Regions from separate parts of the Homo sapiens genome. Here region 2 is linked to region 1. A link means that fine-mapping ties the variant in region 1 to the expression of a gene that starts in the linked region. Tissue or cell type: lymphoblastoid cells. Region 1 holds a variant in brackets; the other region holds the start of a gene. All regions are shown on one strand. Distances are between the middles of the regions.

What was found. PIP is the estimated chance that this variant, and not a neighbour inherited with it, causes the effect.
Region 2: MROCKI starts here. The variant in region 1 is the best candidate, but not a certain one, in a credible set for the expression of MROCKI in lymphoblastoid cells (GEUVADIS, PIP 0.55).

Annotation. Positions count from the first base shown.
Region 1 is chr6:113,762,574-113,766,819 of GRCh38, reverse strand. No RefSeq gene overlaps it. Among named protein-coding and RNA genes, the nearest start is that of MARCKS, 93 kb to the left of the region's middle. The variant C/AC (reference allele first, on the strand shown) is at 2,102.
Region 2 is chr6:113,871,689-113,875,934 of GRCh38, reverse strand. MROCKI (MARCKS cis regulating lncRNA promoter of cytokines and inflammation) reads left to right here and starts at 2,588. Exons shown (of 3, transcript NR_038863.2): 1 at 2,588-2,941. LOC124901382 (a long non-coding RNA gene) reads right to left here and starts at 2,530. Exons shown (of 3, transcript XR_007059716.1): 1 at 2,112-2,530.

The DNA of each region.
Region 1 (4,246 bases):
TATTATCTATGTATCTAAAACTATAAGTTTATTCCAATACTTGCAATTCCAGTTCATAATTTCAGGTTTATTTCCAGACTTTTCTTTCACTTTCTTTGACAGTGAGAAACCTGGCTCTCATTATTGACAATATAGTTATATTTCCTCAAAATGACTATATATAATTAATCTTTTTTCATACTTTGTCCTCTTTCTACCATCTGCAAGGGAAGGGAAAGGAAGGAAAAGGGAGGAAAGGGTGTAGCTGAACTTTTCAGTCTACAGGGCAAGAGTGGTCCTGAATATTGACTACGGTGCATCTCTGGAGGTCTTTCCTAATCATCTGTACCTCTCTAAATTTTCTCTAGCTTCAGATTTGGTAACTGAATGATTATAGAGTATTTTTTGGAACTAGATAGAAAGCAACATTCAACAATTGTCCTCTGTCTAGCTGCTATTTCTTTCTTGATTTTCCCCCTTTGTTCTCCTCTGTTTTGTCACTGCTGTTGCTTTCTTCTCCCTTGAATTGCTTTAATACTTGCCTAAATGCCTCCAATCTTGCCTGCCTCAAGATCTTCTTCCACCAAAGAAATCCCTCTAAAACATGAAGCTGAGTGCAACATTCTACTGCTCTAAAATTTCTCAATGGCTTCCTATGGCTCCACACTCCTTAATGTGGTTTATAAAGACTTCTATAACTTGATGGATGCTTGTTTTCTCCCCCAATCCATCTCAAATCACTCTCTGCACTGAACTGCCTATGTCAGCAACCACAGATACCGGTATGTCTACAAAGAAGCTATGTTTCTTGGGAAACAAGAGCTAAAGGAATGGTTTTCAATGTCAGATTTTCTGGATTTGAATCCTTTTTCATTGCCTGCTTAGGCCTGTGTTTTTGTGACTTGGTTACTACTATTGCTATGAAGCAAACCACTAAAACAGTGGTATAAAACAAGAAATATTTAAGGCTACAAATTCAGTGGGTCCAGATTCAGAGAAAGGCCAGTGGGGACAGCTCATCTATGCTGGTCTGGAGGATCTGTTTTATGATGGTTTCTCACTTGCCTGGTTCCTGGACCGCAATGGCTGAAAGATGGACTCAGCAGGGATTGTCAACTGGAGTGCCTTCAGGTCACCACTCCAGCATGGTGATTTCCAGGTAGGTGGGCATTTTATTGGGATCTCAGAGATCCAACACATATGTTCCAGAAAACCAGGTAGAAGCTGTTTGGTCTCTTGTAACCTGGCCTCAGAAGTCTCATAGCATCACTTCCATGTACTCTTGGTCAAAACAAGATTCAGAGAAAAGGACACAGATGCTTTTAGTGTTTTAATACTGGTATATCTTGGAAATTACTTACTATTTCCTTATCTGCAAGATGGAGGTCCTAGAAGTATGGGCTAAATGAGTTATTACATGTAGAATGGCCAGGACACAGTAACTGGTCCATAAATATTAGATATTTTTGTTTTTCAATGACACTACATGCTATTTTTAAGCCCAGAATTCAGTTAGCCTTCTTCATTGCCTAATGAAGACATATTAATAGATAGGTCGGTATCTCCTCCGGGATGCTATCTCTGACTCTGCAAGGTGTGTTAGGTGTTCCCCAGGGTCCCTGACCTCCACAGTGCTTTATAAATGCCAGTGTGTGTGTGTTGGTTACCCCTACTAGTCTGAGGTCTCTGGGGCAAAAACAGCTAATATACTATCTCTAGCATATATCACAATGTCACATAGTATACACTTAGTAAATCCTTGACAAATGGATGTCTTTATTTTTAGAAGATGAGACCTCACAACCTAAAGACAGAATAATCCTGTGTTCTGGCCAGGCGCGGTGGCTCACGCCTGTAGTCCCAGCACTTTGGGAGGCTGAAGTGGGCTGATCACTTGAGGTCAGGAGTTCAAGACCAGCTGGCCAACATGGTGAAACCCCATCTCTACTAAAAATACAAAAATTAGCCAGGCGTGGTGGTGGGTGCCTGTAATCCCAGCTAATCAGGAGACTGAGGCAAGAGAATTGCTCGAACCCAGGAGGCTGAGGCTGCAGTGAGCCAAGATCGTGCCACTGCACTCCAGCCTGGGGTGACAGAGCAAGACTCCATCTCAAAAAAAAAA[C/AC]AAGAAAGGCCAGGCGCGGTGGCTCATGCCTGTAATCCCAGCACTTTGGGAGGCCGAGGCGGGTGGATCACGAGGTCAGGAGTTCAAGACCAGCTTGGCCAAGATGGTGAAACCCTATCTCTACTAAAAATACAAAAAATTAGCTGGGCACGGTGGCAGGCGCCTGTAGTCCCAGCTACTCAGGAGGCTGAGGAAGGAGAATCATTTGAACCCGGAGGGTGGAGGTTGCAGTGAGCCGAGATCGTGCAACTGCACTCCAGCCTGGGTGACAGAGTGAAACTCCGTCTCAAAAAAAAAAAAAAAAAAAAAAAAAGAAAAGAGAAAAAAGAATAATCCTGTGTTCTGATTTGACTGGAAATTCCCCCATTTCCATCTGTTGTTGCTGCACAATTATTAGTGGTGCCACATTTTATTCTCAAAACGTTCCCAGTTTGGATAGTAAATTATACAGTACTGACTCAAAGAGGCTTCTGGAGTCTCTCCGATGTTGGTGAAGGAAAGACTTCCCTTGAACCTCTGACCCTCTGACCCTCTCTCCTCTCGTAGCAAGAGTGCTCATGAGTAATTCTAGCCTGGGAAACTCACCTTTCACAAGGTGGTGGGGTGGCTGTTAAAGGAAATTTCACTTACAGTGTCCCAGTGAGCCAGGATGTAGTGCTGAATCACCAGCAGCATTTCTCAAAAGGGAGTTAAGAAATGACTTCCCATTGACTCAAGGGGTGTGGGGCTTTCACTTGTCCATGGTGACTAGAAAGGAATTGCCTGGTTAACTTTGACTTATGTTGAAAGGTGGCTTCAGTTTGCTCTCAAACCCATTCCCCACTGATCTCCAAGGGTCTTCAGAGTGTTGCCCTGTTGTAGAGGTTTTTCAGAAAGTATTGGCTAGTGAGTGCTCTCAGGTTGTCCTCTGGAGGAGTTTGAACTGGGGCAAATTTGGGTTAGGACTAAATTGTAAATGAGCTCATCTCTAATGTTTGCACTTAGTTGGAAAAACAGGTTTAAAAGATATGGGAAATCAGTCTGTCAGGATCACCCAAGAAAGGAGTTTCAAGGAATGTGTCATCACCTCAGATAGTCCTGCCAATCTCCATTTTTGGAAGTAAACAGAGACTTTCTTTGCCTTTTAGCTGGTCTTTCTAAATTTTCAAGGCCCAGTATAAGTCCTGCTTTGTCCAAGAAACTTTTCCGGGGCTGCCTCAGACTGTCTCATCTGTTCTTGACAGCTGCTTCTCCCCAGTATCTGAGCTCACCTTCATCTTTTAAAATTACTCATCTGGGAATTCCTCTTCAATGATAATGATCTTTAATACAGCACTTATATGTGCCTGAGTGCTTTGCAACAATCATTTTTTCTAATCTTATCACCAAGTAAGTAATATTCCCACATTTTAGAGGTAAAGAAACACAGATAACAGTGCCTTGTGTTTATGTTCCTAGCATTATATCACCTCTTCTCACTTGGCCTGTAAGTCTCTCAAGAACTGAAAACAGGTTTCTTACTCCTTGATATTTCACTTTCCCCCCAAAACAGTTAAGAACTCAGAGGAGCAAGTTGTCCATGACAATGGCTGATTTTACTTCTTATCTACTCCATGAAGACAGGAGTTTAAACATAAATACATTTAAGTGCCACATAGGCCATCTTTTAAGCCCTGGAAACTACCTTGAGTCAGGAAAATAAATTCAGGGTGAAGAGAAGAGATGGTAAATATGTGGGACTTGCCATTTTGAGAGTCCATCAGTGTTGCTTTTGAAACACAGGAAGCTTTGCTCAGCATTTGTTTAAAAGAGGAAGAAATGTTTAAAATATTAAGCACATTGTGACAATTTGAATATTCCCTGGTTGATTTCCTGCATTACATCTTTGAAAATTTCCTGATTTTCATATGTATTCCAGTGCTGAGTGGTATTTCCTGTGTCAGCCTAAAAAACGGGATTTTTCTCTTAACGGGAAACATCAATATCAGCATCAGCTGCAGGGACTGAGATGTTGAAATGGTGACTACATTCAAACCCATATGAATTTTGATCTTAAAACAAGCCACACACACTGAATAAGTGTATAAATGTGTATGAAATAAGTATGAGTACCTTATCATACATTTAAACCCGATTTTTGTTGACAAGAATATTTCCTTTTAAAGT
Region 2 (4,246 bases), 110 kb before region 1:
GTATCTTTTAACACTTAAATCTTCTCTGAGATATGAATTTCCTTTTTTAGGTCATTTTCTGTTATATTTAATTATGTTTAAAATCTTGCCTATTGCCTGTGTGCTTCTCAAGGGCAGGAAACCTGTCTTTTTCATGGCTGTGTCCTGAAAACCTAGCACAATGGATCATATATAAAACACTCTCAGTAAGTATTGATACCATATGAAATAAACTTTAGGCCTGCACTGGGTTCCAAAGATAAAGGCACTCTTTCTGACATCATCTGGGAGGAATTTGTTGACCACGAACAAAGAAGCTACATTTTGAACAAGCATGTTTGAAACTCTAGAACTTAAGGCTCAGCAATACAGAAATATTTTTGAGTCTTTTTTCTCCAGCTATATTTACTGTCTACCATGTGTGACTTCTCTCTCTTCTGATGCTAATTAATTAATACCCCACACGCCAAACCCTTATTTACCACCCTGCACACACAGATCTCCATTAGAAGTCTGGAATGTTGATGGTTGGGTAGGTATTTTAACCTAGCTTAACCTCTATCACAATAATTAATTTTAATTGCTTTTCACCTTGGTTACGTGATCCCCCAACTCCATGGAAATGATATAACCTTGTAAAAAATAAAAAATAATAATAAAAATCTTGACATGAGCTTCTTAAAGAAACAGACGTGAGATTTGACTTTAGCATTCAGTAACCAAAGGTATAAGATACCCAAAACAAAGGAAATGTGGTGCTTTCACTGCTTGTTTTTAGTGCTGCCACTTCTCTCCCAAGGAATGTCGCTGCCTTAAACTCTGTTCTGTGGCAGATACTTCCTGCCCCTATACATCACCTTCAGATGTACTATATGATCAAGATCTTTACCATCTGGCCACTCCTCTAGCTCTAGTGTTCCAAATGGCTTACATTTTTAATGGTTCTTTGTGATCTCCCTGATATAGAAATACAGGTATGCAAGGACATGTGCACTCATAAAGAGTCTATCTTCCTTCTTTGCATTCCTGTGTGCTTTAGCCAGAAGAGATGTTTTAGGATGGTGGTACAGTGAGAAATTTATGAAACAAGGGCCACTGGGCCACCAAGATGACTATTTATGGTTAAGTGGAATCCAAAAGGATGATATGGGGTATCTCTTTCTTTACAAGTAGTAGCCACTGCCATTGAACAAATATTTAAATAATACAAACAATTGTTAATAATTATTTAGCTCCTCTTAAATGAGTCACGTGTCCCCTTTCCATGTATAAAAACCGTATTTATACTTTGTGTTTCCCTTGTGCTACTCAAAAGATCACAATAAAAACATTCTCTTGAAAAATTTACTTAGTTTATTTCACTGACTTAAAAAAAATTTTTTTTTACTGCATTTTATGCTAGATTCACACATTTCACATGGTGGTTGAACATATAAGGAAAGATATATTTTTACCACGGCTTGATAACATTTCTTCAAGATGCTATCCTCACAACAGATTATATTTATTCAGAAAATTTGAAGTGATCTATTTGAAATTACCTCTAGTAGTTTGTTAAAATGTAACAGATCCATTTATAGACTTTTAAAAGATGGAATTTTTATAAAGGTACAGTTGTTTGTTTGTTTTTTAGACAAAGTCTTGTTCTGTCACCAGGCTGGAGTGCAATGGCACGATCTTGGCTCACTGTAATCTCCACCTCCTGGGTTCAAGCGATTCTCCTGCTTCAGCCTTCCGAGTAGCTGGGATTACAGGCGTGTGCCACCACACCCAGCTAATTTTTGTAAAGATGGGATTTCACCATGTTGGCCAGGATGGTCTTGATCTCCTGACCCATTGATCCACCCACCTCAGCCTCTCAAAGTGCTGGGATTACAGGCGTGAGCCAACACGCCTGGCCAAAGGTACAGTTATATGTGAGTTATACAATAGATTCCCAATAGGGTAAGACCCTGGGGGAGTAACATCACTAGAATCCGATGTGTCCATCTCAAATAGTTTTTTACTGAATTGATTATGTCTCAATAATATTTTGGAATCTTGATAAAAACTTACTTGGCTAAAGTATACCATTAATATAAATAAACAATATAAATATAATATAAATAATATAAATAAACAATGGTATTTACCATATTACCTTTACCATGTGTATTTGTATCCAAAACACACTCATTTATACCATATCAAGGCATAGCAACTCCAGTTTGTTTGAAGAACATTACTTGATAAACAGCAACGAAGACAGAAGAGTTGATGGAAATTCTGATATTACTACCACCTCCTTTCCCTACTATTGCCCTTGTAAAACACAGAAATAGTTTGTTCATGTGACCAAATTGAAGTCTTCTTTCACTCAGGAATATAGAATATCCAACATGCGTTGTGGTGCTTTAAAGATGGTCAAAATTCTTTGACATTATCTCATCAAGAGGTGGTGTCAATGTCCTTCTTTCCCAGAATCTGGGTGGGCTCAGAGACTGCTTTGACCAATAAAGCATAGTGGAAGTAAAACTGTGCCAGTGTCTCGGGCTCAGGCTGAAAGAGACTGGCAGCTTTCACTTCCTGTCTTTTGAAAGTCTCTTGAACTTCGGACCTGGGGGAAGCCAGCTGCCGAGTGAGAAGTCTGACTATCCGGAGATGGCGGTGAGTATAGAGAATTTCTGCTAGGTCTCCTGTGTTTCAGCCATCCCAGCCCAGGCACCACGACACATTATCAAAGGACTATCTTGGACCTTCTCATCCCAGCAAACATCCAATGGAGAAGAATGAAGACTCCAGGCATATGATCCCACTCTAGCCATCCCAGGAGCCCCCAGCTATCCAAACAACTACAGCTGTGGCCAAAAACATCGTGTATCAGGGACAAACTCTCTGCTTATGGCTGCTCTAATCCTTGACCTACAGAATCATGAAATTTGTGGATACGGTCATGATCTTGATTTTGGCGATGGTTTCACAGGTGTGTACCTATGTATGCTTATCAAAGTGTGCACTTTAAAATGTGCAGTTTATTATATGTCAATTATATATAAAGCTGTTCAAAAATTTAAAAATAATTGTTGTTTTATACGACTGAGTTTTCAGGTGGTTTGTAATATGACAATAGATAACCTGAACATGCACTTCCTATGTTTTATGTTTATTTCTTCCTGATATTTATTAAAATAAAAATATTATTAAAATACAAACTTGGCATATAAAACTTTACTAGGTATATTAAGTACTTTTTTTACAAAATTCAATTTGTTTTTATTAAATGTCTATAATCTAGACTATAGATTATACAGTCTAGATTATAATCTAATCTATTATATAGATATAATAGATTAAATGAGTTGGCTTTAAAAAATCACATTATGGATTATTATTGATAATATTAGTATTGTTTTTTACTGAAGTGAATTTCTTACCAGAACAGATTCTAGGCATTTGCACATTCACTCTTAAGTTTCTAGATCCAAGTCCATTCCCTAGAACATATTAGATATTCAATAGGTGTTTGGTAAAAATATAAATGAAATATGGAATAAAATCTAAACCTTTTCTTTTGTTTTAATATCTTTATCTAGTATATCTTAGTTTAAATGTATTGCAAATGATTTCAGGACACCAGTGTCTACCTGAGCTAGATTGCTCTCAAGTTTTAGTTTAATATTCAACCAAAAACGCACATTATAAAACAATGTACCTTCTTTTACAAAAAGTTTGCATGTGATGGAGCCAGGTCCCTTTGAGTCCAGCACCTAAGTGTCTAATCACTAATTCATCCTCGTGACCCCAACAGGAAATAGCATGACCTCAAGTCTAACTGACAGGAATGAGACCTACAGAAGAACAAAAAAGGAAGAAAAGTTAATAATCTTTTTTCTGTCCATTTTCTTCTTTATTGTAGGTCAGATGTACGTGATGGTTACCATTATAACTACATACTATGAAAGATTAATCAGTGGAAAAAAACAAGTTAAAGACACACAAAAAACTTCAGAGAATCAACTTCTGGTCAAAAAAGCCCTCCTTTAGCCAACTCTAAACCTCATTCAACCAATATTCTCTATAGTCTTAGAAAGCATTCAGAAGACATAATATTTTTTAAGGACTTCAAGCAGCAAATGGCAGAAGTGACAAGAATTGAAAATAGAGGAAAATTTTGTTTTGTTTAAAGAATTCTAATTTTAATAATGGGAAGTATGCATCCATATTTATGCCAGATTCATATATATGAAATATATATATATATATATATATATATATTTCATGTAAATGT